Regions from separate parts of the Homo sapiens genome. Here region 1 is linked to region 2. Evidence: fine-mapped expression QTL. A gene starts in region 2. The other region holds a variant in brackets. All regions are shown on one strand. Distances are from middle to middle. Region 1 overlaps ADORA2A-AS1 (ADORA2A antisense RNA 1). Region 2 holds the start of UPB1 (beta-ureidopropionase 1).

Region 1 (16,132 bases), 20 kb before region 2:
AAACCTCATGAAAGACTGAGCCAGAGGCACCTGGCTGAGCTACACCTGGATTCTTGACCCATAGAAACTGTTGGATAATAAATGTTTATTGTTTTAGGCCACTAAGTTTTAAGGTAATTTGTCATGGAAGAATAGACACTAGGCTACGCGTGGCAGCTCACACCTGTAATCCTACCACTTTGGGAGGCTGACGCAGGAGGATCCTTTGAGCCCAGGAATTCAAGACCAGCCTGGGCAACACAGTAAGACCCTGTCTCTATAAAAAAAAAAAAAAAATAGACAACTAAAACACAAAGTGGAGCAATATGTTACACAGCAATAGATAACTGATAGACAAGACCAGTTCAAGTTGCTCCCCTGAATTTTCCTTGACCTAGCTTAGCCCAGAGCAACCTCTGCCTAATGTGAACTTGATGTAGAGCTGTTCTTCTCATTGGTCATTTTGCACAAGGGCAACATTAGTTATCTTCTATCCTCTGTGTCTCTTGTCTTTTCCAAGTAACCTGAGGTCAGTAGCTGCTTAAATTTCTTGTATGTCTCTGGAGAAAGTGTTTGTGCAAGTAGAGAAAGCGGTAGGCTTTGAGAGGCTAGAACTGCGTCTGAAGGGTCTTTTCATTCATGTTTGGTGACTGACTGAAAAATGACTTGTTGGTGGGAAATTGAAGTGTATGTTAGAAGAGGGACCACAGCTTAGGAAGAGCTGATTTTTGATCTTCATCAAAATGAGGCTTCAGTGGCAAATACTAACAGCCAATCCTCCTTGTAAATTCTGTTGATTTCCTTCTTATTGTGTAAGGAGTTTAGCCTTCTGTTGGCAGTTGTGTTGTGACAAGCAGCAGAGAGGGGGTGGCTCTGGGACACTGGGGTCACTTCAGAGGAAGGGAAGTTGATTGTCTTCTCAGGGCCCCTTCTCTCACATTTATTCTTTCCAGGGCCTCTGCAGCAGGACTGTGCTGAAGCCCATTTCCTACACGTAGCACCATTTATTTAAAACACACACTACATATACACAACAGACCAAATGCAAAGGAAAAAAGGGGAAAAAGGCTGCTGAAGACCAGAGTCACTAAAAGTTCAGGCTAAGAATAGACAAGGAACTCTGAGAGCTGCTCAGCTATGTGACCTCCTGCAGGGGCTTGGCAAGAAGCCCAATTCAGCTTTGTTTTTTCTGTGCTTTTACAAAGAAAGAGCACTAGCTTGGGAGTCAGGAGACCTAGGTACCAGACTTTGCTTTGCCAGTGCCTCTTTCTGTGGCCTTGGGTAAGTTTTTCCCCTCTCTGGGCCTCAGTTTCCCATTTGCAAAATAAAAGTGTTTAAGACTAGGTTCCAAGATTTTCCAATTCTAATGCTGAGAGGATACAGAGGAAAACAGAAAGAATGCTGGCTGAGGAACCAGGAGACTTGCCTTCTTGTCCCAGCTCTGCCACTGACCTGACCTCTTTGGGCCTCTGCTTCCTCATCTATAAAATAAGGTACTATATTCATTCATCCAGTCCTTCAACGAATATTTCTTGAGCACCTACTATGTGCCAGGCTTGGTGCTGGAGATACGATGATGAGTCAAGCCAGACAGTCTATGTTCTCATGGAATTTCTAGTCTATTGGGGGTGGAAGGGAGGAGGAGAAGATGAACTGTAATCAAACAATCACATAAATGAAGGTGTAATTAATGCCAGGGTAAGAAAAACAGGGAAGGGTCACACTTGGTTCTCAGCAACTGAGGGATAGCCACAATGTCCACCAATTCCAATGTTCTGTGACCTAGTATGTAGCTCTGCGGGGAGGTGCAGAGAAGCCTTTGGAATAACTCATATCTAAAATCATAGGGTTTTTTTGTTTGTTTGTTCGTTTGTTTTCAGAACGGCACAGCTCAATTAATCCAAGCAACCAACAACCATCTATTGGGGACCTTCTAGCAGGAATCAGTCACCTACCTCTGGCCTCTCTGGTGCTTTACACTAGTGGGCAGAATGGACTCATAAATGGACACAGCTATAAAATGCCTCACATCATTCTCTGATGGCTAATTATATGTTTCAAATACTAATGTGTCTAAGAATTAGGTGAGAATTGGATGTGGTAGGACAATCAGAGAAATTTTCTCACAAGTAGAAATTGAGATAGGCTCTGAAGGCTTGCTGCATAGTTTCAGATAAACAGAAACAATAATATCAGGGCACAGTGGGCCCATTCCCTCCTACTAGACAGTACAGGTGCATGGGACATACGAGAGATATCTGGCCGGGTGTGGTGGCTCACACCTGTAATCCCAGCACTTTGGGAGGCCGAGGCAGGTGGATCATGAGGTCAGGAGATCAAGACCATCCTGGCTAACACGGTGAAACCCTGTCTCTACTAAAAATACAAAAAATTAGCCAGGCGTGGTGGCAGGCACCTATAGTCCCAGCTACTTGGGAGGCTGAGGCAGGAGAATGGTGTGAACCCAGGAGGCAGAGCTTGCAGTGAGCCGAGATAGCGCCACTGCACTCCAGCCTGGGCTACAGAGCGAGACTCCGTCTCAAAAAAAAAAAAGAGATGTCTCAAGTAAGAGACTCCTAAATTTCATTTTGGGGCAGGAGAGATTCAAACCCTACTTGTTTTGTCAAAGAGCAAAAGACCTCTTCTGTGACCTACTCTAAATCCCGTCCCTTGGATTAGGAGGCCTGCTACTGATGGGATTCCTAACTTGGGGTAGCCATCTCACCTCAATGAATCTGTTATCCTGTAAAATGAAGGGGTTAGATGATACCCAAAATCCCTTATAACACCCAGAAAGATGGCTAAAACTTCATTCTTTGTAAGAATTTTTATTACTTTATAATAAAACTGATGGTTGCTACTATGGAGTATGAGCTGTGCGATCTTAGGCAAATTACTAAGTTTTCAAAACCTGTTATACTTTCTTTTTAAAATTTATTTTAATTTTTAAATATTTTATTTTCTTTTATATTTTTGAAACAGGGTCTTGCTCTATTGCCCAGGCTGGAGTGCAATGGCACAATCACAGCTCACTGCAGCCTTAAACTCCTGGGCTCAAGCAATCCCCTCACCTCGGCCTCCCGAGTAGCTGGGACTACAGGCATGTGCCACCAAGCCTGGATAATATAAAAATTTTTTTTTGCAGCAATGAGGTCTTGTTATGTTGCCTAGGCTTGCTATGTTGCTAGGGTTAAAATGGCCAATTTTACGTTATATATATATTTAAACCATAATCTTTAAAAGTAATATACCAAAAGTAATTCACTCATATAAAGTGAATTATACACTTTAAATGAGTGAATTATATGGTTTGTGAATTACACCTCAGTAAGAGGATATTCTCCATCCCAACCTAAACTTCTGTCCCCTCCTCAGAGGCAACTATTTGTTTCTTAGCTTTCTTTCTAGAAAGATTCTAGGCATAAACAAGTACATCTTAAAATCTATCATACTTTTTCTTTTCATACAAATGAAAGGAAGTGATATACCATTTTATACTCTGCTTTTTTTTTACTTAATATCTCTTAGGTTGTTGTGTATCAGCACATGCAGATTTACTGCATTCTCTTTTTTTTTTTTTTTTTTTGAGAAGGAGTTTCGCTCTGTCACCCAGGCTGGAGTGCAGTGGCACGATATTGACTCACTGCAAGCTCCGCCTCCCAGGTTCATGCCATTCTCCTGCCTCAGCCTCCCGAGTAGCTGGGACTACAGGCACCCACCACCACGCTCGGCTAATTTTTTTGTATTTTTAGTAGAGACCAGGCTTCACCATGTTGGCCAGGCTGGTCTCAATCTCCTGACCTCGTGATCCGCCCGCCTCAGCCTCCCAAAGTGCTGGGATTACAGGCATGAGCCACCGCGCCCAGCCTCGATTTACTGCATTCTTTTCCACTTCTACATAGAAGCCCACTGGAGGGACCTATCACACTTTATTTAATGAGTTATCTTATTGATGAATATCTTGTTTCTAGTCTTTTTTTTTTTTTTGAGAAAGGGTCTCGCTGTATCACCCAGGCTGGACTGCAGTGGCATGATAATGGTTCACTGCAGCCTCCAACTCCCGGGGCTCAAGCAATCCTTTTGCCTCAGCCCCTAAAGTAGCTTGAACCACAGACAGGTGCCACTATGTCTGGTTATTTATATATTTGGTAGAGATGGACTCTCACTATGTTGCCCAGGCTGGTCTTGAGCTCCTGAGCTCAAGTGATCCTCCTGCCTTGGCGTCCCAAAGTGCTGGGATTATAGGCACGAGCCACCATGCCTGGTACCCATGGTTTTAGGCAGACACATGAATACATCATCTATAGGATAAATTCCTAGTTCTGGTGTTGCAGGGTCCAAAGGTTAGCACATGTTAAGTATTACTATTGCCAAAATGACTTCCTTAGAATCTATACCAATTTACACTCCTAACAAGAATTCATTCACTCACTTTTTTCATTCAACCAATATTGAGTACCTATCATGAACCATGCACAATTCTAGGTCCTGGGGACACAGCAAATGAACAATAACAACAGGAATAAAAAGATAAAAATCCATTCCCTAATGGAGCTTACACTCTCACAGAAGGAGAGGGCAACCCAAAAAGTAAAATATGTAACATCTTAGATGGTAATAAACGCTATGGTTGGCCGGGCGCAGTGGCTCACGCCTGTAATCCCAGCACTTTGGGAGGCTGAAACGGGCGGATCACGAGGTCAGGAGATCGAGACCATCCTGGCTAACACGGTGAAGCCCCATCTCTACTAAAAATACAAAAAAATTAGCCAGCTGTGGTGGTGGGTGCCTGTAGTCCCAGCTACTCAGGAGGCTGAGGCAGGAGAATGGCATGAACCCAGGAGGCAGAGCTTGCAGTGAGCTTGCGCTGGGCGACAGAGCGAGACTCCATCTCAAAAAAAAAAAACTGCTATGGCTAAAATAAGGCAGAGAAAGGAGTGCTGGCCATGGGTAAGGGCTAGTAATTTAAACGGGATGGTTAGGGTATAAAAATTCTAAGCCTCAGCTTCCTTATCTGTGAAGCAGGACAACAATAGTACCTATGCTGGCCAGGGGCTGTGGCTCATGCCTGTAATCACCGCACTTTGGGAGGCTGAGGCAAGCGGATCGTTCGAGGCCAGGAGTTCAAGACCAGCCTGGCCAACATGGTGAAACCCCATCTCTACTAAAAATACAAAAATTAGCCGGGCATGGTGGTGCATGCTTGTAATCCCAGCTACTTGGGAGGCTGAGGCAGGGAAATTGCTTGAACCCAGAGGCAGAGGATGCAGTGAGCCAAGACAGCACTACTGCACTCCAGCCTGGGTGACAGAGCAAGATTCCATATAAAAAAAAGTACCCATGCCATAGGATTGTTGAAGGAATTCAATGATACTATATCTGGTATACAGTAAAAATTTCCTAAATGAAAGCTATTCTTATTATAAACAACTTTACAGCTAAGGAAAGTGTGGCCCAGGGATGAACAATTTGCCTATGGTCTCAGGGAAAATTAGTGGTTGGGTAAGAGCTAAAACCAGGCCTCCTGACCCTCCATGCAGTACACTTCCAAATATATCAAGGGACCAAAAGCATTAAGATGCCATCCTACTGGGGCTGCTAACGGGCAACGTGGTTTTAGCTTCAAGAGTGCTCTGAGAATGTGATTTTCAACATGCAAAAGAGGGGAAGGGAGATGAGAGAGTACACAAGGTTCATTAAGGAGAAGCAGGCCAACTTCACTCAGGCCTAAGGCTGAGCCTGCTGGGGTTTGCTCACAAGACATTCAGATCCAGGATAGTGTTCTCAGCCAAAGGCAACAAGCGTTCTGGCTGCTGCTCGCCCATCTGCTCTGATGAGACTCTCCCAAACCCTGGACTCCCATTGGTTTCATTCCAAGGAATCTCCTGGAGGAAAGATAAGCAGCAGTTAAGTCACAGCTGTAGAAATAATAAGATCTGGAGGGGCACTTATATCTGTTTGGCCGAGTTAGATTTTCAAGCAGGCCAAGTATGTGGTGATGGTGGTCTCTCAACTCTCTCTGTGCCTTTTCCTCACCCCATGGCACCTCCTCTCCCTGTCCACAGCCAGATACTATTTCCCTAGGCCTTCTGCCTACCCAGAGCCCTTTCCTTGTGTGGGTTCTATCCTTCCTTTAGCCCTATCCTTTCTTCAGTGAGCGTTTCATTCCCTCCATTCCTCCTAACCCCTACTTCGGAAATACATATTTTTAAAAAGGTGACACTTACTGGCTTAACAGTGTCACTATGGAACAGGATTCAGGGAAGTCAGTGTTCTGGGCTTGACCTCTGTTAATGTGTAGGTCCCTATATGACCTTGGGAAAACCAATTACCTTTTCTGGGCTTCAATTTCTTCATCTAAAAAATGTATTTCGGCTGGGCGCAGTGGCTCATGCCTGTAATCCCAGCACTTTGGGAGGCCAAGGTGGGTGGATCACCAGAGGTCAGGAGTTCAAGACCAGCCTGGCCAACATGGTGAAACCCCATCTCTACTAAAAATACAAAAACTAGCCAGGCGTGGTGGCTCACATCTGTAGTCCCAGCTACTCGGGAGGCTGAGGCAAGAGAATCGCTTGAACTTGGGAGGCGGAGGTTGCAGTGAGCCAAGATCACGCCATTGTACTCAAGCCTGGGCAACACAATGAGACTCGGTCTCAAAAAAAAAAAAAAAAAAAAAAAAAAAAAGTATATCATGGCTGGGCATGGTGGCTCACGGCTGTAATCCCAGCTGTTTCGGAAGCCAAGGTGGAAGGATCCCTTGAGGCCAAGAGTTCAAGACCACCCTGGTCAACATAGCAAGACCCTGTCTCTACAAAAAAGAAAAAAAATTAGGCATGGTGGTTGTGCGTTTGTAGTCCCACCTACTCAAGAGGCTGAGGTGAGAAACTTGCTTGAGCCTAGGAGTTTAAGGTTTCAATGAGCTATGATTGTGCCCACTGCACTCTAACCTGGGCAACAGAGGGAGGAGACCCTGTCCCAAAAAAAAATTTGTTTTAAGATGTATATCATGGCATTTCAAGTACCACAGTGTAGATTTTTCTGCCAAGGGCAGATCCCAATGATCCACCTGAAGACAAAAAGGTATACAGAGAAGTAGGAGGGCCAAAGGGAGAAACATTCAGAGTTGAGGTGCCAAGGCCACTAAAATGCTATTAAAAGGGGTGTAATAAAAACCAATATTTGTTGAATGGCATCCAGTATCCAGTCCTGGGGCAGCCATAAGGAAATTCATACCTGGGCGAGAGATTTAGGTTTAAAATCGATTCTTGTATTGGGTAGACCTCAATGCAGGGGAAATTCCAGACCAGCTTTGGACCATGGCAACTCTACTCTTAAGAAGGGGAACATAAGAAAGAAAAGGTACTTTGTCCCAGATCACTAGCCCCTCAGTTACTTGAACATCATGGTGTAGATCTGGCTGTGAGATTTCTCTGCAAGGCTAGAAAGAGGAAGATTGAGAAACATTCAAACAGATTGATAAAAAGGGTTCTTGAACTCAAATTTGAGGAAGTGACCTAAGATTTCAAAAGATGTTAGAATTATAAGCAAATTATGTGGATGTTTCCACTTCTGTTTAATCTGTGGACAATTACATTAACAGATGGAGCTTCTGCTGGGGCAATCTGAGAAAACTTAAAAAAAAAATCTCAGTGACTATCACTAATGTTATCTTTCAAGCTGACATCCATGATCTTATTTTTTATTTTATTTTTTGAGATGGAATTTCACTCTTGTTGCCCAGGCTGGAGTGCAATGGCGCAATCTCGGCTCACTGTAACATCCGCCTCCCAGGTTCAGTGATTCTCCTGCCTCAGCCTCCTGAGTAGCTGGGATTACAGGCATGCGCCACCATGCCCGGCTAATTTTGTATTCTTAATAGAGATGGGGTTTCTGCCATGTTGGCCAGGCTGGTCTTGAACTCCCAACCACAGGTGATCCACCCATCTCGGCCTCCCAAACTGCTGGGATTACAGGCATGAGCCAGCACGCCCGGCCATCATCCATAATCTTAATTTCATCCACAGAGAAAGGTAGAGAGCAGCAAGGGGAATTGAGACATGAGATTCTGAACTCTGAAATAATCTA[T/A]GATAGTCACTACATCATTGTTCCTGCCTGGAAAAACAATCCAGACCCCAAACTTTTCTTCTTTGATGCCCTGCAGTGGGGTTGACAATAAACTCTCACAGGCTTGAGCCTTGTGGCATCATCAGTACAGCAGAAACAGTTGCAGACATTTTGGGTGAAAAATCAACCAAGCCTGCTTAAATCCCTCTGCCTGCTGGGACAAAAATATGGTCAGACTTCCAGAGTCAGCAGTGCATCCTAGCAGAGAAACACTGAAGGAGAGATGGCACTGTTTTCACGGAGTCTTCAGTGACTTTCCACTGAGCTGTGGGAAAATCTGACAGTTGACTGTAGCTGAGTCATAACCCAGAGGTCCTGACCACTCAGATATTTGAAGATTCCTTTCATTCCTTTCCCAAACGGGGAACCTGGCAAACTCCAATTGGTTAATTCCATTTACCTCCTGTTCCTTGCAACTATATGTAGGTATAGAGTAGTGTGCTCTCAGCGGTAGCAAAAGGGTATCAGAATAACAGCATATACACTTTGTAATTATAATAGCTTATATTTATCTTCTACTTACTGTGTGTCGGGCACTTTCTATAGATTTTTTTTTCATTGAATCTTTAAAACTGTTCAGCAGTATATTTACTATTATTATCCCCAGTCTACAGATGAAGAAACTGAGGCTCAGAGAGGCTAATAACTTGCCCACAGTCACATACCTTTGGTGTGAGTTGCTGAGGTTTAACCTAAACATTCTAACTCCAGAGTTTGTGCTCTAGCCACTATGCTATACTGTAGCCAAACACCAGCATGGATATCCCAAGCTCAAAGGCACTTCAAATACCACAAATCAATCAATTTTCCAGCTGAGAAAACAGGCCTAGGGAGATTATAGGAATTACCTAGTGATAGAGTCAGGGTTCCAGGCAGATCTCTTCACTCCAGAGTTCTACACTCTCTCCACTGCATCAGAATACTTCAGGTTCGTAGACAAGCATGTGGTGCACACTTGTAGTCCCCGCTATGATCGCACCACTGCACTCCCGCCTGGGTGACAGAGTGAAATCCTACCTCTAAAAAAAATAATAAAATAGAAAAAGAATGCTTTGGGTGCTCTCCATCATCTTGAGAATCTAGAGCTTTTCTATATCTTATCCCTTATTCTTTAGGGAATGGAACTTAATTTTATGTAAACATAAAATATTTTCACATAGTTTTTCTACAATATACTGATTTCCCAATCCTTCCCCCCTCAACTTTTTTACATAGACTTTTTTTGAAATGGCATCTTACTCTGTCATCCAGGCTGAAGTGCATGGCTCAATTTCAGCTCACTGCAACCTCCACCTCCAGGGCTCAGGTGATCCTCCACTACAGCCTTCTGAGTAGCTGGGGCTATAGGCACACACCACCATGCCCAGCTAATTTTGTGTTTTTCTGTAGGATGGAGTTTCACCATGTGGTCCAGGGTGGTCTCAAACTCCTAGGCTCAAGCATTCCACCTGCCTCGGCCTCCCAAAGTGCTGGAATTACAAGCATGAGCCACTGTGTCCGGCCTATGTAGACTTTTAAAGGGCATTTTAAGTTCACAGCAAAAGTGAGTGGAACACATAGAGCTATCCCACAGACCCCCTGCCTCCACACACAGCCTCCCCTGCTACCAACATCCAGCACCAGAGTGGTGCATTTGTTACAACCAGTGAACCAACACTGACACGTCATTATCACCCGAAGTCCATATGTTTGGATTAGGGTTCACTCTTGGTGTTGTATATTCTATGGATTTTAGCAAATGTATAATGACATGTATCTATCATTATGGTATCATATAGTATAGTTTCGCTGCCCTAAAAATCCCATCTGGTCTATTTATTCATCTCTTCCTCCTAAAGCCCCTGACACCCAGTGATCATTTTACTATCTCCATAGTTTTGTCTTTTCCAGAATTACATATAGTTGGGATCATATAATATACAGCCTTTCAAATTATTTCATTTAATAATAAGCATTTAAGGTTCTTCCATGTCTTTTCATGGATTGATAGCTTGTTTCTTTTTAGCACTGAATAATATTGCATTATATGGATGTACCATACAGTTTATTTACTCATTTATCTACAGAAGGACATATTGGTTGCTTCCAAGTTTTAGCAACTGTGAATAATGCTGCCATAAACACTCATGTGCAGGTTTCTGTGTAGACATAAGTTTTCAACTCCTCTGACTAAATACAAAAGGACAATTGCTAGACCATATGGCAAGAGTAGGTTTAATTTTATACAAAACTGTCAAACTCTCCCAAAGTAGCTGTACTGTTTTGACTCCCACCAGCAATGAATGGGAGTTCCTGTTGCTCCACATCCTCATCACCATTTGGTGTTGTCAATGTTTTAGATTCTAATAGGTGTACGGTAGGATCTCGTTGTTTTAATTTGCAATTCCCTAATGATGCATGATTTTAAGCATTTTTTCCTATGCTTATTTGCCATCTTCTTTGGTGGGTGTCCATTCAAATTTTTTGCCCATTTTTTTTTAAGAGATGGGGTCTCACTATGCTGCCCAGGCTAGTCTCAAACTCCCAGCCTCAAGTGATCCTCCCACCTCAGCTCCCCCAAGTGCTGGAATTACAGGTGTGAGCACAAGCCTGGTCACCCTTTTTTTTTTTTTTTTTTTTTTGAGACAGAGTCTTGCTCTGTCGCCCAGGCTGGAGTGCAGTGGCGTATCTCAGCTCACTGCAACCTCCACCTCTAGGGTTCAAGTGATTCTCCTGCCTCAGCCTCCCATGTAGCTGGGATTACAGGTGTGTGCCACCACACCCAGCTAATATTTTTGCATTTTTAGTATAGATGGGGTTTCACTATGTTGGCCAGCTGGTCTCAAACTCCTGGACTCAAGCAATCCACCTGCCTCAGCCTCCCAAAGTGCTGGGATTACAGGCGTGAGACACCATACCCAGCCTTCAGCTATGATTTCTTTTTCTTTCTTTTTTTTTTTTTTTTTTTTGAGACAGAGGCTCACTCTGTCGCCCAGGCTAGAGTGCAGTGGTGCGATCTCAGCTCACTGCAACCTCCGCCTCCCAGGTTCAAGCGATTCTTCTGCCCCAGCCTCCTGAGTAGCTGGGATTACAGACAAGTGCCACCATGCCCAGCTAATTTTTTGTATCTTTAGTAGAGACGGGGTTTCACCATGTTGGCCAGGCTGGTCTCGAACTCCTGACCTCGTGATCCACTTGCCTTGGCCTCGCAAAGTGCTGGGATTACAGGTGTGAGCCACTGTGCCTGTCCCCAGCTATGATTTCTAGTAGTCAATTATTGAGTGTTTCCTGATCTCTGCATAATGCCCTCCTCTACCCCTCCCTCTTAGGAAATGACCAGCTAAGGCTCCAGTATGCTCCCTCAGTTCTCACTTCTAGGGAGGCTTTCCATCTCTAGGTCTTACCTGTGTAGTTTATTCTTTATATCCTGCCTCCTGTCATGGGGACAGTGTCCCTATTCCTCTCATGCAGTTTGTCCACAGTGACCTTGGCCCCACTAACCTTTCCAGCCTCTTCTGTATCCAGACCAACTTCACTTTCTTTAGTGAAGGATTAGAGATGGATAACAGCCTGGAAATGGCCACGTGTAGTGGAAAGGGTTTAGTCTTAGTCAAACAATTCTTGACTCCTCTGGGCAAGTTAGTTAACCATGCTGAGTCTCATGCCCAGTGGATAGGACACCCCTGCTTATAAGGTGATAATGAAGATTAAACACAAAATCATGTAAAGGGGTTAGCCCATATCCTAGAACACTACAGATACTGATTTCTCTCTCTCTTCTGGCCTTTTTCCCACTTCTCACAAGAAATGTTCAAGAAAGCTTCATTTTTAAAAAGCCCAGGCCAGGCGCAGTGGCTCACACCTGTAATCCCAGCACTTTGCGAGGCCAAGGCAAGTGGATCACGAGGTCAGGAGTTCGAGACCAGCCTGGCCAACATGGTGAAACCCCGTCTCTACTAAAGATACAAAAAATTAGCTGGGCATGGTGGCACTTGTCTGTAATCCCAGCTACTCAGGAGGCTGGGGCAGAAGAATCGCTTGAACCTGGGAGGCGGAGGTTGCAGTGAGCTGAGATCGCACCACTGCACTCTAGCCTGTGTGACAGAGTGAGCCTCTGTCTCAAAAAAAAAAAAAAAAAGAAAGAAAGAAAAAGAAATCATAGCTGAAGGCTGGGTATGGTGTCTCACGCCTGTAATCCCAGCACTTTGGGAGGCTGAGGCAGGTGGATTGCTTGAGTCCAGGAGTTTGAGACCAGCTGGCCAACATAGTGAAACCCCATCTATACTAAAAATGCAAAAATATTAGCTGGGTGTGGTGGCACACACCTGTAATCCCAGCTACTTGGGAGGCTGAGGCAGGAGAATCACTTGAACCCTAGAGGTGGAGGTTGCAGTGAGCTGAGATGCGCCACTGCACTCCAGCCTGGGCGACAGAGCAAGACACTGTCTCAAAAAAAAAAAAAAAAAAAGGCCCTATTTCATCTTCAAAGACCCTTTCTTGCCCTCTATTCAATTCATTCTGATCGCTATTTATTGAGCCAGGGACCACCTTTTCAATACTCTCTCAAACGCTGAATTCAACACATAATGGCAAATTGGTCTCACTGCAGCATTAATATTGCTGGACACTGACACTGGGGGCCTGCTGATTCCTGCATCTCCTCTAACTTCTCTGAACATTTCTGTCTCAGGTACTTTATACTTCTCATCTTTCCACATCCTGATCTCTTCTATTCCCATGGCTTCAACAACCACTATTTGCTAAAATTTCCAGTTTTTTCTCTCTCTAGTCCAAATTCCAATCCTTAGGCCCCAGACCTGAATTTCCAGCCATTCACAGGGATCTCCTTCTGGAGGTCCCAGGGGCATCTTAATCTCCAAACTGGCTTTTTCTCCTCATGGCTCTTATTTCCTAAATGGCTTATATTATTAAACCAATACTCAGACAAGAGGCCAGAATCATCCTGAACATCCTTGTCTTCTACACCTCATATTCTATGTTGGAGCCATCACAATCCCTTTGATTTTCATTTCCACAGTGCTTCTTGAATCCATCCCCACTCTATTTCTAGGGCTTTAGTTCAGTCCTTTATCATGTCTCACCTCAGATATTGCTGCAGACTGGGAGCCCTTATTGCCAGGCACTCACCCTGCTCATACTCTGCTTAGAGCCCAGATTTATGTAATTAATAGATCTGAGAATATTAATCATCTGCTACAAAGTCTTCCATAGCACTAAGTGAAATACTAAATACTAGTATCTTTAGCTCGCATTAGGATGGAGGTGCCTCAACACTATTAAAGACCTTGTCTTATTAATTATTATATCCCATGACATAATATTGTACATTAAATATTCATTAAGAAATGCTTATTAAATTAATGAATAAAAGCCCAGAACTATGCCATGTATAGTAGGGCATATGAAAGAAATATAGGATGGTCCCTGTCCTCTAGGAGCTTACACTCTTACTGGAGAGACAAGATAAAAACAAGAAACTGGGCCAGGCACAGTGGCTCATGCCTGTAATCCCAGCACTTTGGGAGGCTGAGGCGGGCAGATCACTTGAGTCCAGGAGCTCGAGACTAGCCTGGGCAACATAGCGAAACCTGTCTCTACTAGAAATACAAAAATTAGCCAGGCGTGGTGGCACACGCCTGTAGTCCCAGCTACTTGGGAGGTTGAGGAGGAAAAATGGCTTGAGCCCAGGAGACAGAGGTTGCAGGGAGCCGAGACAGCATCACTGCACTCCAGCTTAGACGACAGAATGAGACCCTATCTCCAAAAAAAAAAATAAGGAAAAAAGGAGTTTGCCTAAAATAAGAAAGCAGTAATTTTTTTTTTTTTTTTTTTGAGACAGAGTCTAGCTCTGTCACCCAGGCTGGAGTGCAGTGGCATGATCTTGGCTCACTGCAAGCTCCGCCTCCCGGGTTCACGCTATTCTCCTGCCTCAGCCTCCTGAGTAGCTGGGACTACAGGCACCTGCCACCATGCCCTGCTAATTTTTTGTATTTTTAGTAGAGATGGGGTTTCACCATGTTAGCCAGGATGGTCTCGATCCATGATCCACCCACCTCGGCCTCCCAAAGTGCTGGGATTTCAGGCATGAGCCACTGCGCCCAGCCAGAAAGCAGTAACTTTTTTTGAGTGCTATAATAACACCAAAGTGGCCAGGTGTGGTGGCTCATGCTTGTAATCCCAGCATTTTGGGAGGCCTAGGCAGGCGATCACTTGAGGTCAGGAATTCAAGACCAGCCTGGCCAACATGGTGAAACACCATCTCTACTAAAAATACAAAAAATTAGCTGGGCCTGGTGGCACACGCCTGTAATCCCAGCTACTCAGGAGGCTGAGGTAGGAGAATTGCTTGAACCTGGGGGGCAGAGGTTGCAGTGAGCTGAGATGATGCCATTGCACTCCAGCCTGGGCAACAGAGCAAGACTTTGTCTCAAAAAAAAAAAAAAAGTGAACATATACAAAAGCTATAATAGAAAAACTACCTTTTGATACACATATATACATACTCTTTTAATGAAGCAATCCTTTGAGAAAGATATTATTATCCCCACTTCACAGACAAAGAAACTTTGGCACAGAGCCATTAAAGAACTTGTTTGAAGTGACACAGCTACATGCAAGACCCTGTACTAAGCACTACTGACACAGATTAATAAAATAGTTCATGCTTTCAAATATCTCAAAATCGAATCAAAAATTCTGAAACTAAATGATTCTCTCATAAACAATTACCTATACATCAATGTCGGGTATTGTAATAAATATACACATAAGATGGGAGTGTTATTTTAGGAATATTAAGCTTAAACTATTACGCTGAAAAGGCTCTACTAGAAGACAAACACACTGAAATAGGAGAAATTAGCTTCCTAGCTAATACAGCTTCTTTGCTAATACAATGACGCAGGCAAGATCCAGGCAGGCAGGTGATGATGGTGGATGCAGTAAGACTGGAGAAGGGGCAGGATGCAAGACAGTTCACAAACAGGAATGACAGTAAAAGTTTAATGTAAGAACAAAGAATCAGGCTTAAGTTTTTAAGTCTTGGAAACTCAAGGATATTAGCAAAGACAAAGATACATTTATTTTAAGGTATGGTATACTGAGCTGAAGACTGCTTTGCTCTGAGAGAATATAATATAATATAGATTCAGAAATGAGACTTTACAAATCATTAGCAACCAGGCTTGAGTTGTATCTAAAGAAAGAATTTAAAAATATTTCAATTAGGCTCTGTGTCAGTGGGATGGCCTCTACATGTTTTCTTTGGTTTTATTTTCTCCTCACTCTCCACTGGTCTCTATTATCAATTCTGTTTGCAGCACCTTTTCCACGGAAATGAAGTGTGATTATAAAGTAACAATGCTGAAGTTTAAGCATACAAGAATTTATCCAAAACTGATTCCAAAAATGTTGTTTTTGCTTTAACACTTTTCTGGAACTTCTGTGTTGGAGTTGCTTTCAGAGTCCATCTACAATCCCAACAAGGAAGCCAATTATTTCACAGTCATACTTTATTTGTGAACACCTCTAACCTGATCATCCATTAACTTAGCTCAGAGTTAATTTCTGTTTTTTCAAAAGTAAAATCTACCCTCGAAAAAAAAAAACACAGATTTCTTGAGTAACCAACACTAAGGTTATTCCAGGGGTTGTGCTCCTTAGGCAACTTCATGAGAGGCTTTCCTGTAGGGGAGACATGGAGAATTAACATGTCTGAGCCCTTACTGAGAGCTGGGCATTGGACTGCTAATTATTTCCCAGACCTGCTTTTCATGTAATCCTTGAAGCAACCATTCAAGCAAGTACTGTCATCTCATGATAAAGAATAAAAGAAAGTTCAAAAAAGTAACTTATATAACTAATACATAGCAGAGTTAGAACTTTAAAAACACAATTTTGCTACTGTACCATGCTGCTTCTAATAAAATAAGAACACCGCTTCCCAATGAACAGAAAAATGATCAGTTAAACAGTATCATTACTATATAATCCTATATTATATGCCTATAGCTTTAATACTCTTTTAACA
Region 2 (15,336 bases):
CTCACTGCTACCTCTGCCTCCCGGGTCCTGGCTCAAGCAATTCTCCCGCCTCAGCCTCCCAAGTAGCTGGGATTACAGGCACATGCCAACATGCCCAGCTAATTTTTGTATTTTTAGTAGTGACGGGGTTTCACCATGTTGGCCAGGTTGGTCTTGAACTCCTGACCTCATGATCTACCCGCCTCGGCCTCCCAAAGTGCTGGGATTACAGGCGTGAGCTAGCACGCCTGGCCTCCTCCCTTAGTTTCTATCCATTGACTCCAGCTCCTCTCCTTAGGGACATGTGGAACAAATAAAAACCTCTTATATGTGGCCCCTTCAGAAATCTGAATGAAGTGACAATATCCTTCCTGAGTTTGTTTGCCTTGTTTTGCTAAATATATGTTCCAAGTGCCTTTAACATTTTGTTGTTGTTGTTGCTGTTAGATCTCTCTTTTCTGCATATTCAAGATGATCTATATGTCGTGTAGCTATCCCAGAGCTAGATTAATTTCAGGTGTGCTCTGGTCAGCACAGAACAGAATGAGATAGTCATCTTCCTTGTGTTCTGCACACTATACTTCTCATAATGCAACCTAAGATTATATCAGCTTTTTTTGGCAGCCACACACACTGTTGACTCACATTGAGCTTCTAGTCAACTCAATACCCCTAATTCAGCCACACGTACTGCTGCTAGGCCCAATGCATACTTCTGCAATTGTTTTAGCGGGGAGGAAGTGGTAAAGAGAAAGATTTATCACATTGATACTTCATGAAATTTGGGGCCCAAAAATTCAACCTGGGATTTTGCATTCCTGTCATACATAAGCCTATGCTTAGTTTGCTATCCTAAATGATTAGACAAACTAGTGATGAGTCATGGACTGGAGTTCAGCTTAGGCTAGTCAGCTTTGCTTTGTTTCATGGTCTCATGCAGCCTTCTCAAAATTACCGATCTTTCAAATGTATGCTATTTATCCCGAGAAGAACTGGTGGAAAGACTATAAATGATTCAATGCAAAGCCATTATCACCACTGAAAAAAACAACGCAAAGATAAGTATCCAGTACATTAAAGATGGTATATTTATAATTTGCCATGGAAGAATTATATCTAAACACCTTCTCCTTGATTAAAAATAGCATCTATAGAGATAATGCTATATAGATTTTCAAAGATATTTCAACTTAGCTTATTCCATTCCTTCAAGAAAGTGGGGAAGGTATCATTATCCTCATTTCTAGTTCAGTTCAGTCCTTATTGTACCCATGGTATTCCAACACAAGTGAGACCCACCCCATGTGATTAAGGCACTCATATCCAGGGTGTTCTCATTTCTAGTCCAGTTCAGTCCTTATGGGACCCATGGTATTCCCACACAAGTGAGACCCAGTCCGTGTGATTAAGGCACTCTTATCCAGGGCGTTCTCCTGTAAGTGTCAGGCAACATCTGCTCTGCTTGCCCTTGCCATCTGGATTTTAAAAAGGATCTCATACTCCGTTAATCATAAAATCATAGAATCTATGAGAATTAGTCTAATATCTTTGAAGATTAGGAAGAGGTATCAAATAATGCACCTAAAGTTTCAGTTACCTAATAGTAAAACCAGGATTAGAACATATTTATATTCTAACCAGTATTCAGACCAATCTTCTTTCTCTTACACTACTATTTCTCAAGATACAAGTAGGTAACTGTCTGTTATCTACAGCAAGGACATTTCTGAAAATGGGATCTGAGATACACATTCTCTGCAACTCAAGAATGTTATGGCTAAGGATCCCACCAAACTCCTAATCCAAGGGAATATGGGCCAGGAAGCTAATCAGAGAGGGATGAACCATGAGATGCTGAACCAGCGACTTCCCAGTAAACAGATTTGTGCTATATGAAGCAGCTCCCCCAATATCTACCATTGTTAGAGCCACTTGAGGATTTAGACCACTTGTGTTCTAGATAACCAGGGTGCAGAGACAGCTAGAAGTCATGTTGAAAGGAAATAATTATAAATCTGCTACAGCCAAAGGTGGTCTTTTTCAAAAGCAGGCTAAATAAGCCGCTGAGTTAATATAGCTAAAGGAACCCGGTAAGTGACTATGATTGCATCAGTGCACTCCAGCCTGGGCAACAAATTGAGACCTTGTCTCTAAATATTTATCAATACTGATATGGTGTCCAATTTGATTCAACAATCATTTATTGAGTGCCAGTTATATGCAAATCACTGTAGACTCAAAGACATGCCATTCCTTTATCCTTAAGAAACAACAGATTCAGGTTGGACATGGTGGCTCATGCCTATAATGCCTATAATCCCAGCACTTTGGGAGGCCAAGGCAGGAGGACTGCTTGAGCCTTGGAGTTCAAGACCAGCCTGAGCAACATAATGAGACCCTGTCTCCAAAAAACAAAAAACAAAACAAAACAAAAAAAAGGGCATGGTGGCTCGTGCCTGTGGTCTACTTGGGAGGCTGAGCTGCAAGGACCGCATGAACCCAGGAGGTTGAGGCTACAGTGAGCCATGATTGTGCCAATGCATTCCAGCTTGGGCGACAGAGTGAGAGACCCCACCTCTAAAAATAATTAATAATAATGACAATAATGTTTATTTCAAAATAGCCACAAAGAAGTGATAAATATTTGAGGTGATGGATATGCTAATTGGCCTGATTTGATCATTCCGCAATGTATACATGTATCAAAACATCACATTGTGCCCCATAAATATATACAATTATTATTTGTCAATTAAAAATAAAATTTTAAAAACACTTTAGAGGTTTAATATGAATAAAGAAGGTTTACTATGAGTAAAGCAGAGCTGGTCATGAGAGGAGAAGAAACCCACAACAAAAACAAGGGACAAAAAGGAGGCTGCTAAAATGGGGGCCGTAAAACCTTATTTGTCACAATTTTGGCTGGGTTGGCCTTGCTCTGCTGCAAAATCCATTTTTGGTAAGTTTGGGTGGGCTACTCCAAGACTTTTTCATGTGAGACACTTAAGTCTACATAAGGATAAAAAACAATAAAAAATGCTAGTGAAAAAAGAATTGTGACTTCTGGGCTAAGGAATGCAATGTAGGGACAAATTAACCCAGAAATTGGGTTTTAGAATGTTGCTTAGAAATTGGGTCACCTCAGATCTTTTTTCCCTTGACTATAAGTAAAATATTGGCTCTTACAGTTTCTTTCCAGTAAATACCATGTTTAACTTGGAAATCTGACAAATACCAAAAACCCTATCCCCTTACCTCACAGTATTATTGGATGATCAAATGCGACAAGATGACGCAAAAGCCTTTTGTGTGTTGTAAAGTGCTAAATGAGGGCATAAACAGCCCCTCTGGGTCATAGGAGAAGACTGGTGGGATCTCCATGTCATGGCCCTTATTAGAATTGTTCACCATTGATCATCATAACATTTTAGTCCTTCAAATGTAAATGAGTAAAAATAGTACCTTACTATATGATCCAGCAATTCCACTGCTGGGTATATACACAAAAGAAAGGAAATCAGTGTATCTAAGGGATATCTGCACTCGCATCCCATGTTTGTTGCAGCACTGTTCACAATTGCCAAGATTTGGAAGCAACCTAAATGTCCATCAACAGATGAATGGATAAAGAAAATGTGGTACATATACACAATGGAGTACTATTCAGCCATAAAAAGGAATGAGATCCTGTCATTTGCAACAACATGGATGGAGCTGGAGGTCATTAAGTGAAATAAGCCAGGCACAGAAAGACAAACCACATGTTCTCACTTATTTGTGGGAGCTAAAAATTAAAACAACTGAACTCATGCAGATGGAGAGTAGAAGGATGGTTGCCAGAGGCTGGGAAGGGTAGTTGAGGATGGGGGAAAAGTGCAGATGGTTAATAGGTACAAAAAGTAGTTAGAAAGAATGAGTAAGATCTAGTGTTTGATAGCAGAACAGGGTGACTATAGTCAATAATTTAATTGTACATTTAAAAATAACTATGAGTATAATTGGATTGTTTGTAACACAAAGAATAAATGCTTGAGGGGATGGATACCCCACTTACTATGATGTGATTATTACACACTGCATGTCTGTATCAAAGCATCTCATGCACCCCACAAATATATATACCTACTATGTCCTCACAAAAATTAAAAATAAAAAAATTTAATTACCTATACACATTACTTTTTAAAAAGTACTTTAAATACCTTCCCTAAGGATTGAAATAAACACATATTGTGAATTTAAAAGTAATACCTAAAAACAGACACTAATACTTTTTTTTTGAGACGGAGTCTCGCCCAGGCTAGAGTGCAGTGGTGCAATCTCAGCTCACTGCAAGCTCCATCTCCTGGGTTCATGCCATTCTCCTGTCTCAGCCTCCTGAGTAGCTGGGACTACAGGCACCCGCCACCACGCCCAGCTAATTTTTTGTATTTTTTAGTAGAGACGAGGTTTCACCGTACTAGCGAGGATGGTCTCGATCTCCTGACCTCGTGATCCACCCGCCTCGGCCTCCCAAAGTGCTGGGATTACAGGCATGAGCCACCGCTCCCAGCCCCACTAATACATTTTTAAAAATAAGCTCCTTCTGCAGAACCAGCTTCTATAATGAAACTGTTTTCTCACAAATAAGCATATAGAGGAATTTATACATGGCTAGATTATTAGAATCATATTTTATTAGAATTAGGACAAGACTTACATCATCTCTATAGACTGTCTCACCAGTTCCCTCCCCTCCCTTTTTTTTGTTTTGTTTTGTTTGAGACGGAGTCTTGCTCTGTTGCCCAGGCTGGACTGCAGTGGCACGATCTCAGCTAACTGCAACGTCTACCTCCCAGGCTCAAGTGATCCTCCTGCCTGAGCCTCCCAGTAGCTGGAATTACAGGCACGCACCACCATCCCCAGCTAATTTTTGTATTTTTAGTAGAAAATGGGGTTTTGCCATGTTGGCCAGGCTGGTCTCCAACTCCTGACCTCAAGTGATCCACCCACCTCGGCCTCCCAAAGTGCTGGGATTACAGGCCTGAGCCACCGTGCCTGGCCCCTATCTTTTTTATAACAGGAAAACTGAGGTTAAAGTAGAACCCAGACTAAACTGCAGGTTTTCTGACTCCTGTTCTAAGTCTCTTTTCTTCTATAATTTTTTAAAAAAATATTTCAAACATAAAGAAAAGTATTGGTAATAATAAGCACCCAGATTTTTTAAATGTTAATATTGTCATATGTCTCAGATCTCTTAAAAAGAATTAAAACATTATCTATCAACAGATAATTCCCATTCTTCTATTTCATTCCCCTATCTCTCTCTCCAGAGGTATCCATCATGTTGAAGTTGTGTGTATTCTGTCCTTCCTGCCCATGTTTGTATACACTTACCAAATTATGGGTTATATATCCTTAAACCACACCATGTTGCCAGAGAAAGAGTTGTTCTTCCAAACAAGGAAGAATCCCTCACTCTAGTATGCTTCATGCAGTTATAACCTTTTGGGTTGGTGGGATATTTCAGAAAGAAACTAGGGCAAAGCCTTAAGTCTTTTTAAATGATTACCACAGAGCCGGGCGCAGTGGCTCACGCTTGTAATCCCCACACTTTGGGAGGCTGAGGTGGGCAGATCACCTAAGCTCAGGAGTTTCAGACCAGCCTGGCCAACGTGGTAAAACCCCATCTCTACTAAAAATACAAAAATTAGGCGGGCGTGGTGGCGTGTGCCTGTAATCCCAGCTACTCTGGAGGCTGAGGCACAAGAATCACTTGAACCCAGAAGGTGGAGGTTTCAGTGAGCTGAGATTGCTCCACTGCACTCCAGCCTGGGTGACAGAGGGAGACTCCAACTCAAAAAAAAAAGCAAAAAACAAAATGATTACCACAGAAAGAGCTAGTGAAGTGTCTTGCTATCATTCAGAGTAAAAAGTAAATTGGGCAAATATAAACATTTTTAATACAACTTTTTAAATCCTAAGTTTTATTTATGAAACACTGGTTTACAATGAACAAGTACGAATGACCTGTCACTGAACAATAGGGAAAGATGAACTAAACAATTTAACTAGTAATAATAGCTTCTACTACTGCTTCGAGGTCCAGCTCAGTGTTATCACCTTAATGAATTTGTCCATGATCCCAGAGTTGATTCCTTCAATAATCATTTATTGAGTGCTAAAGTCCTCTGGATACAAAAGTAGATCCGGTCCATTTTCTGAGGACAGCACAGAAATAACTACACAATACTGTTTAATAAATGTAACAAGAGAACTATCTATGAAGGCCTGGGGGAGCCTAACTTTTTCTGGGACAATTGGAGAAGTCTTTACAGAAGTGATGTTTCAACTGCATGGTGGAGGATGAGAAGGCGGTCACAAAATGAAGGATGAAAGGTGATTCCAGGTAGGGATACACTGAATGAGAGGGTACAAAGGATGGTAAGATACTAGTTTTAGAAAGACAACTAAGGATAGACATTGGAGGTGGAGAGACAAGTTACAAGACTGGCAACAATTCAAGCAAAAGATGACAGGAGGCAGACATGAGGAGGGAGGAGGAAGGATATGAACAAAATCCAGGAGATAAATTTAGCAGAACTTGATGCCTGATTGTATTGAGGAAAGAAAGAACATGGAGGAGTTGCAGATGACTCTCAAAAACTTGGCAAATCAGTGGGTGGTGAGGCCATTACTGAAATAGGGAATACAGTGCAGAAGATAAGAGGCTGGGCGCGGTGGCTCATGCCTGTAATCCCAGCACTTCAGGAGGCTGAGGCAGGCGGATCACCTGAGGTCAGGAGTTCAAGACCAGACTGACCAACATGGTGAAACCCCATCTCTACTAAAAATACAAAAAATTGGCTGGGTGTGATGACACACGCCTGTAATCCCAGCTACTCGGGAGGCTGAGGCAGGAGAATCGCTTGAACCTGGGAGGCGGAGGTTGCAGTGAGCCAAAATCGCACCATTGCACTGCAGCCTGGGCGACAAAAGCGAAACTCTGTAACAACAACAACAACAACAACAAAAGAAGATAAGAGCCTGCTTGAGAAAGGAGGTGAAAGTTCATTCAGTTTGAAGCATTTTGAGTTGGCTTTGAAGCCTCTTCCATGAGACCTCCAACAATTTCTCTAAGCCAGAAATCACCTCTTTGCACTCCATAGTATCTTTTTCATCTCAAATTATTTAAATCTGCTGTATTTACAAGTTTGTCTTTCCTTTTTTTTTTTTTTTTTTTTTTTTTGAGACGGAGTTTTGCTCTTGTTGCCCAGGCTGGAGTACAATGGCACGATCTCAGCTCGCTGCAACCTCCGCCTCCCCTCCTGGGTTCAAGCGATTCTCCTGCCTCAGCCTCCCGAGTAGCTGGGATTACAGGCATGCGCCACCATGCCCGGCAAATTTTTGTATTTTTAGTAGAGACGGGGTTTCACCATGTTGGTCAGGCTGGTCTCGAACTCCTGACCACAGGTGATCTGCCCGCCTCGGCCTCCCAAAGTGCTGGGATTACAGGTGTGAGCCAACGTGCCCAGCCGTCTTTACTTTAAATCACAAAGAAAAGGTACTAGGTCTTATCTGTCTTTATATGGCTCTCTTAGCAGTGCCTTACACATAGAAAGTCCTCAGAGTTTGCACTCTTGAGAAGGCAGCTCCATCAGATACTAGAAACCGTCAGCTAACATTTATCAAAACAAGGAACAAAACTTGTGAATTAGCAGCTGAAACAAAATACCTGAAGTATAATATTTTTAATGTTAGTAGCTGATTCTAGATATAAATTAGCTCCCTTTGTGCTCATTTTACTTGCCTCTTTTTTTTTTTTCTTTGAGATTGCGTCTCACTCTGTTGCCCAGGCTGAAGTGCAGTGTTAAGATCATAGCTAGGGAGCCTCGAACTCCTGGGCTCAAGCGATCCTCTCACCTCTGCCTCCCAAGAAGCAGGTGCGCACCACCATGATAGGCTAATTTGTAAAACATTATTTTGTAGATACAGGGTCTTGCTGTGTTACCCAGGCTGGTCTGGAGTTCCTGGCCTCAAACAATACCCCTTTCTAGGCCTCCCAAAGTGCTGGGTTTACAGGCATGAGCCACCGTGCTGGCCTTTTCTGACTTTTAAACAACCCCGCAGCGTAATCTTTGCATTCCTATTTTACAGATAAAGCAACAGAAGCCTCCAGCGACTAAGTTAAACTTTCCTGGGGTCACAAGGTTTACAAGTGGCTGAATAGGATTTCTACAGACTGGTTCCTTCACCCGGCTGCCCGCCGAAGTAAGCGGGCCTTACTGCCCTAATTCTCAATAGGACCCCAAAGAGGACGCTTCTTTGCTCCTGAAGGGATGGCACCCTCTGGATTCGCGGTAACAGCAAATGGGGCTCTCACTCCTACCATCTCAGTGACAGTTTAAAGCGCACCCTACCGCAGGAAAGTGCCCATATTTGCACACACGCGGCAGAGGGCAGGGCTGAAAAGGGGCCCTAGGGTGCAGGGGGCGCGCCCTCACCCGGGGACCCCGCATTTTACAATATTAGCTCCACCGAGGCGCACGGAACCGCAGGCGAGCAACTGACCTTCGGCTCCAGCGGCCCCAAAGCCGGGGGTGGGAACGCGCGACCCAGGTAGCGGCATGGACTCCGAGCCTGGCCCCTCGGGGGTTAAAACTCCCCAGACATAAAGGCTCCGGACGACAGAGGTGCAGCCGCCGCGTGCCCGTGGGACACTGAAACTCTTCCCTTACCTTCCTCGGTAGTCCTGTGAGGGAGGCTGGCCCGGCCGGCTGCCCTACGGTGCGGACAGGAGGTCGCGGTCGGGAGGGGCCCTGCCCGGCGGTTGCTGCTGGAACCAGCCCCCGCAAGGGCCCGCAGCGGCCGGGCCGTTTACCTCAGACCCGCGCCGCAGCCTCCCGGAGCCCGCGCCCAGGACTCCCTCACGACCTCTCCAGGGTCCCGGCCCGACACCAAGGGGCAGGTGAGGGGTGGAACCTGGAGGCACCCGCGCCAGGGCCCCTGAGGGAGGCGGGAGGGGGACAGCCTCAGTCCTGACTCGCAGCCGAGGCGCGACGACTCCGCGCAGTCCCGCCTGTGGAGGGGCGTGCCTCATCGCTTGCTAACCGAGAGGCGAAGGGCAAGGGGCGAAGGGCAAGCGCCGGATCCTTTCGCCCCCTCCCCACGTGAGGCCCTGGAGGCTGATTGGCCGTGTGCTGCGGAGGCGGCAAGAGGAACGTGTCCTGGCACGTGCCGAAGGAGCGCTAAAGGCCAGGGGCGGTCCCACCCGCGAAGCCCTGGAAGGCGGATTGGCTGCGCGAGGAAGTGGCGTGTCCTCACTTGAGCTGTCTGGGAGCGAGAGTAAGAGATAAAGGCAAGGGCGCCTGACCGGGCCTGGGCACCTCCTCCCACTGCGGGCAAAGGGCAGGCAGTTCGTGCGCGGACACAAGCACTGGCGGACCGTGGCCATGGCGGGCGCTGAGTGGAAGTCGCTGGAGGAATGCTTGGAGAAGCACCTGCCGCTCCCCGACTTGCAGGAAGTGAAGCGCGTTCTCTATGGCAAGGAACTCAGGTCCGCAGCCAAGAGGCTAAGCTAATGGGGTCTTGGGGCCACAGAGTGTGGGTCTGGGGGAGCAGGCAGGGAGGGCCTCAGGGTCTGAAGGGCTCAGGGGAGGCGGTGAGAAGTCCTGAGTTGGCGGGCAGAGACCATAGTAGGTCTTGATGGGACGGCCCCGGGGTCCTTGGGGGTTGCAGAATCCTGGCGTGACCTTTACAAATCTCTTCTCCCCCACGTTGCCCAGAACCGGAAGGAAAAGGACGGGATTTTACTCTCCAGGGCTTTCTCTGTGGCCATCCCAACCCTCCTCCCCGGAGCCGGGCTTGTCTTCTGGATGTCTGGCTGGATCACTGTCTCCAACCAGAGCACCCAGCAGGTGTACTGATTGTCCGGCCCCAGACCATCCTTCTTGCGGTGACCCGACCTCTGGCTGACCCTTGGAAATAGAGGCTGTCTGCATTTAGTTGGCGAGGGAACCTTTCCCACTGGCAAGCCATGGGCGCTGGTTTTTCCACTCCCTGCAAGCTTGTGCATCACCAGGACTTTCTGAGGGCTGTATACTGCTGGACACTGTGTCCACAAAGCTGAAAAAGACACTTCCTGGCCGGGCTCACACCTGTAATCTCAGCACTTTGGGAGGCCAGGGCTGGAAGATTGCTTGAACTCAGGAGTTCGAGACCGGCCTGGGCAACATAGTGAGACACCCATCTCTATAAAGCATTTAAAAAAATAGCCAAGCATGGTAGCATGCATCTGTAGTCCTAGCTACATGGCAGGCTGAGGCGGGAGGATCACTTGAGCTTGGGAGGTCGAGGCTGCAGTGAGCCAAAATCTCTCCTCTGCACTCCAGCCTGGGAGTCAGAGTGAGGCCCTGTCTCAAACACACACACACACACACACACACACACACATACACACACACACACACACACACGTCTTTGGATTTGGAGCTTACTTGGATAATCCCGGATGATCTTATCTTGAGATCCTGACCTTAATTACGTCTGTGAAGACCCTTTTTCCAAATAAAATCACAATGACAGGTTCCAGGTGTCAGGATGGAGACACAGCTCAACCTGCTACAGTAGCTTCAGGGTCTGCAGGTGGAAATAACTCAGGGGCTATTTGCTATGTGGAGGTGGGCCTCAGGTGGGCGAGGCTGGGCTTGTTGAGCTGCCCTGGAGATGGTCATTCCAGGTGAAGGAGGAGCAGGTACAAAAGAGGGCGCTGGAGAGAATGCTGGAAAACCTGGATATTCAAGGGGTCAGAGAAAGAGACTTTGTGGGAGATTCTGGAGGTGAGGACTCTGGGGCAGGACAGGAAAGAAGCATCAGATGGCTCAGAAATGTCTAGCGGGTGAGGACAGCAGGAAGTCTGCTGGATTTAGCCATGATAAGGCTGTTGGCAGTTCCTGAGATGGGGCCAGGAGGTAAGGCCTGAGCTGAGGGGAAGCATGTGTGGAAGCTCCCTAGGCAGCAGGGAGAGACAGCAAGTGAGTAAACACATGGACATATGTGGAACACTGTCCCTCTTTCTCTTTCTTCCTCACCTTCTCTCCCCCCTATCTCCCTTCTGTTTTTCAACGGGAGAGACTCTTTAACAGCTTCAGTGATGGATGTGGAGGTCTGTAGGTACTAGTGGAGAAAGATGTCCAAGCTATGTGTATTAAGTGAAAAAGGCAAGTTGAAGAACAGAAAATACAGAATGATACCATTGTATTTGTAATGCATACACGTAGGAAAATAGGAAAGAGACATAAAACATTGTTAAGAGGGGTTGCCTCTGAGTTTTGGGACTAGGGGTGGGGTAGAAAGGGGAATGTATGTTTCATTTTATACCCTTTCCCACTATTTGATTCACCCCCGCCATGAGCACATGTCTCTTTTGTAACAGAGCTCTAGTTTAATGATTTAAAGTGCTGGTGGTAAAGAGCCATCAGACATGGAAAGATGAAGTTCCAGAAGTGAGAGGTTGCTGAGGAGGCAGGAACTTGGTGTCCTCTGGCAAGGTCTGCCTGACCCTGGGTGGGAGAGGTGGGGGCCCTGAAGGGCATGGTGGGGCTAGGATGGGAAGTGAAGGGCTTTACTCCTTGAAGTTTGAAGGGAAGCCCTGAGTGGGGAGGCCTCAGTAGCAGGGTGAGGGGTAGAGGGTCTGAAAGCCAACTACAGGGACCAGGGCAGGCAGTGGCAGCAGGAGGCCGTCTGTGAGGTTATGGCTCATTTGCTGGTCTTGTCCTCCTGGGCAGTGGCTGATTGATGTTTTAGTACTTTTGGGCTACTATAACAGAATACCAGACTTCCCTGTACTTGTGGGCAATCACAGGGAGAAAAAGGAGAAGGGTCTGTGTGTCTGTTTCCCCAAAGGTCTGTGGGCCTGGTAGCTGGACAGCCCTTTGGGAACGTCCTAGTGAACACTGTCCTCAGCCTGTGGTCTCACACCAGGAAGAAGTCAGGTGGCAGAGCTCTTGTCTGAGTGTGCAACCCTGGCTGTAACCAACATCTGGCTGCGGTCTCTTTCCCCATCTTAAACCACATGAATTTATTCCTCACAGTTCTGAATGCTATGAAGTCCAAGATCAAGGTGCCACAGCAGATCTGGTGTCTGTTGAGGGCCCACTTTCTGGTTTTTGATGGTGCCTTCTCACTGTGTTCTTACATGGTGCAGGAAGCAAGCATGCCCTCTTGGTCTTTTAAAAGGACTCTACCCTCATGACCTAATCACCTCTGAAAGAGCCCTATCACATTGGAGATTAGGATTTCAACATATGAATTTGGGGCAGACATAAGCATTCAGTCTGTCTCAGTGTTCCACTGCATCTCCTGTACCAGGCCTTTCGGTGGGCACAGCACATGGTCATTGACTGCGTCTACACAGGGTATGGCTTGAGGATTGGTTAGGTTCTCCAAGATGAAGCTGTGTAGGATGTGGTAATGCACCGCCTTTGATAATGGGAGGGCAGAGAGGCCTTACAGGTACTGCCCAGATAGTAGACAGGAGTGGCTGGGAGGAGGTAGAGCCCCAAAGGTGGCTGTCCTGGAGGGTGGAGCGGCCTCTCCTGTATTACCTTGGCTTAGAATGAGCTCGCAGGGAGCTGGGGATAAGGAGGTGGGCAGCCTCAGGGCTGGCTAGGCGGAGGCATCACTTGGGGGAAGAAGGGTAGGTAATGGAGGTTGTGCATGGTGGGAAGATGAGGAGAGAGACTTCAGCCAGGTGGTGGTTACAGCCATGTTTCCACACCCAAGACGAGCTCTTCACCTGACATTTTCCTGGTGTGAGACCACAGGCTGAGAGGCCAGGCAGGGTTCACCAGGACACTCTGAAAGAGCTGTCTGGCTCCCAGGCCCACAGGCCTTCGAGGGAATAGACACATAAGCCTTGCTCCTTTTTCTCCTGGTGTCTGCCCACACCCATATCCTGGAAAGCTGCGTGATTTATGTCCACCAGAGGGGATTTGCTCTGAGGCTGTGGCCTGCAGGAGCGCCCTTCCGCTGGAGGGTGGGAGGACTGTCTAAGGCAGTCACAGCAAGGAGAGGCACGGTGTGGGCACTGCTGCTATTTCTAACCTGCTGGAGTGAAGGGAACCTTGACTACTTGAAAAGCAGGCTGATTGTCAGGGGCGGAACCGAACTCAGAGCTGTCAGGGCCGTCACATGGAAAGTGCCTGGCAGGGGGCGGCGACAGGGGGCTTGGGCTGACAGGGCTGTGATTTTGAAAGAAACGTCTCCAAGAAAGTGATTTAAAGTAGGAGAGAAATATTATTATTAGATAATGGCTGTCAGGTTATTTTTTGATGTGTTTTCTGAGTATTTCATAATCATCTTGCGCTTAGATGGTAAGCCCTTCCTGGCTAGGGGCCGTGTCCCATCCCATGCCTCTGTGGCTTTCACCTTCGGGTGTGCAACAGGTATCAGGAGGTATTTGCTGTTTGGCTAATGGTCACTTCAGTGGAAGGTTTTATAACTAATTCTCTAGCCTTGGTTAATAAACTACAAATGTGGATGAGCACTTAGGGCTTCCATCTGAACACCTGGGCCCCTCCAAGCCCACCCAACACCAGATGTAGAACTGGCCTCCCCCAGCAGGAGCAGCAGGACAGAGTGGCCAGGGTCTTTATTCACCATAAGGCCATCCATGTGATCCCAGGTCATGGCCTCTCCATCCAACCTGTCTCCTGAGCCCCATTTTCCAAGCCCCTCGGCTCCCACAGCCTGCCTCACACCCTAGGCTCAGCATAGCCCTGATTCTGGTTCAGAAACACTTTTGAGAATCTGTTCCCTCCTTTCTGTGCTGACTGCCAGGACTTTAATTCCTACCGTGATTTCAGCAACTCTAAAACACCAACCTCTTAACTGGCCTCCCCATTGCCAGGCCTAACCGTGCTGACTCTGCTGAGGTCTCCCTGCCAATTGCAGGTAAAGTCCAGGTTCAGTGTAGTGTTCTGTCATGGCTGGACCCCACTGCTCGCCAGCTCCCTTGGGCCCTGGCACTGAGCGCCTTCTAGCCAGGACATCCTCACCTCTTTGGCTGATAAATAGCTACAAGAAATGGGAGAGAGATTTTAAGTGGAGCAGACTGCATCAAAATCCCCTTCCCTCTTTTTTCCTGCCCATCTAGGAAGCTTGATCTGCCCAGGGAAGCTTTCGAAGCTGCCTCCAGAGAAGACTTTGAACTGCAGGGATATGCCTTTGAAGCAGCGGAGGAGCAGCTGAGACGACCCCGCATTGTGCACGTGGGGCTGGTTCAGAACAGAATCCCCCTCCCCGCAAATGCCCCTGTGGCAGAACAGGTGCAGACTCTTTTGACCATAATAAATACACAAACAGGGTTGTGGCCTGCCCTTGGAGCACACCTGCAGGCCCTGGCTGGCCGCATACTCCGGGTCTGCAGGCTTGGGCGCCTCAAGCAGTAGCAGAGGCGCTTCTGCCCTGGCCTCCCCACATCCCTCCAGCCTGCATCTCTGGCTCTTCTGTCTTCCTGTTCTTATTCTGTCTCTCCCTCCTCCTCACTGATCTTTCCACTTCTCTCCAGCTATTGATCTGAAGCTCCATTTACCAACCGGGAGGGTGCCCTTTTGGCCTGCTCGTGCTCTCCACGGGACGCTGCCTCTCAGCTGCCTGCCAGGAGGCGGCCAGCCAGCACACGCTGGTTGGGACCGTCTGTCCGTGTGTTCTTCTGCCTTAATCCTCAGGGCGGGGACTCGCTATACCCAGAAGTCTGTCAGTTGTGGTGCCTACAGGATTACGGGAATAGATAGGCATTCGCTTATGACCTCAGAGTTAGTAAATAAAGGTGACAGCATCTTGTATCTCCCTAAAGAAACATGTTGTCACAGGCGCAGGTGGTTTGCTTTATACACTTCTCCACAGCATTCCTCCAGCTGCTCAAACTTTCAGGGATTTTCCTGCACAGGTTTCCTCAGGATACGGCGTGTTTGAGGATTCTTAGGGATTCTGGAGAAACCTAAGGCCTCTTGGATTCCAGGTTTGGTTCTGCATCATCATTCACATTGGTCCTTCCTTTGCTTTTGTTGGATTCACAGATGTCTGGTTCTCAGTTCTCTCACTTTTTGTATCAGGATTTGTTTTTTGTGGATATGTCCCCTCTATCATCCCAGACTGTCAAGTCATAGGACCAGCTATGTTTTTTTCACGTGCACAGGGCCTAGAAGTATGCTTTGCGTTTTGCTAACACCAAGCAAATGTGTGTTTGCGGGGCTGATGCTGTCAGCAAATATCCACAAAGCCATGGGGTGCACAGCCTCTCAAAGGAGGAGACTATAGGCCTTGTGGAGAGTTTGTGCGCTCTGGGTTTTCAGCCTGGTTCCTTTGGTCTGTCTT

Evidence for each region.
Region 1: its variant is fine-mapped to the expression of UPB1 in whole blood (INTERVAL, PIP 0.97).

Annotation. Positions count from the first base shown.
Region 1 is chr22:24,466,032-24,482,163 of GRCh38, forward strand. ADORA2A-AS1 (ADORA2A antisense RNA 1) reads right to left here. Exons shown (of 7, transcript NR_028484.3): 2 at 8,952-9,122; 3 at 5,737-5,864. Among named protein-coding and RNA genes, the nearest start is that of ADORA2A-AS1, 21 kb to the right of the region's middle. RefSeq lists a silencer at 13,503-13,690. The variant T/A (reference allele first, on the strand shown) is at 8,065.
Region 2 is chr22:24,485,994-24,501,329 of GRCh38, forward strand. It overlaps UPB1 (beta-ureidopropionase 1), which reads left to right and starts at 9,339. Exons shown (of 10, transcript NM_016327.3): 1 at 9,339-9,514; 2 at 14,114-14,285. The coding sequence starts at 9,411. ADORA2A-AS1 (ADORA2A antisense RNA 1) reads right to left here and starts at 9,081. Exons shown (of 7, transcript NR_028484.3): 1 at 8,697-9,081.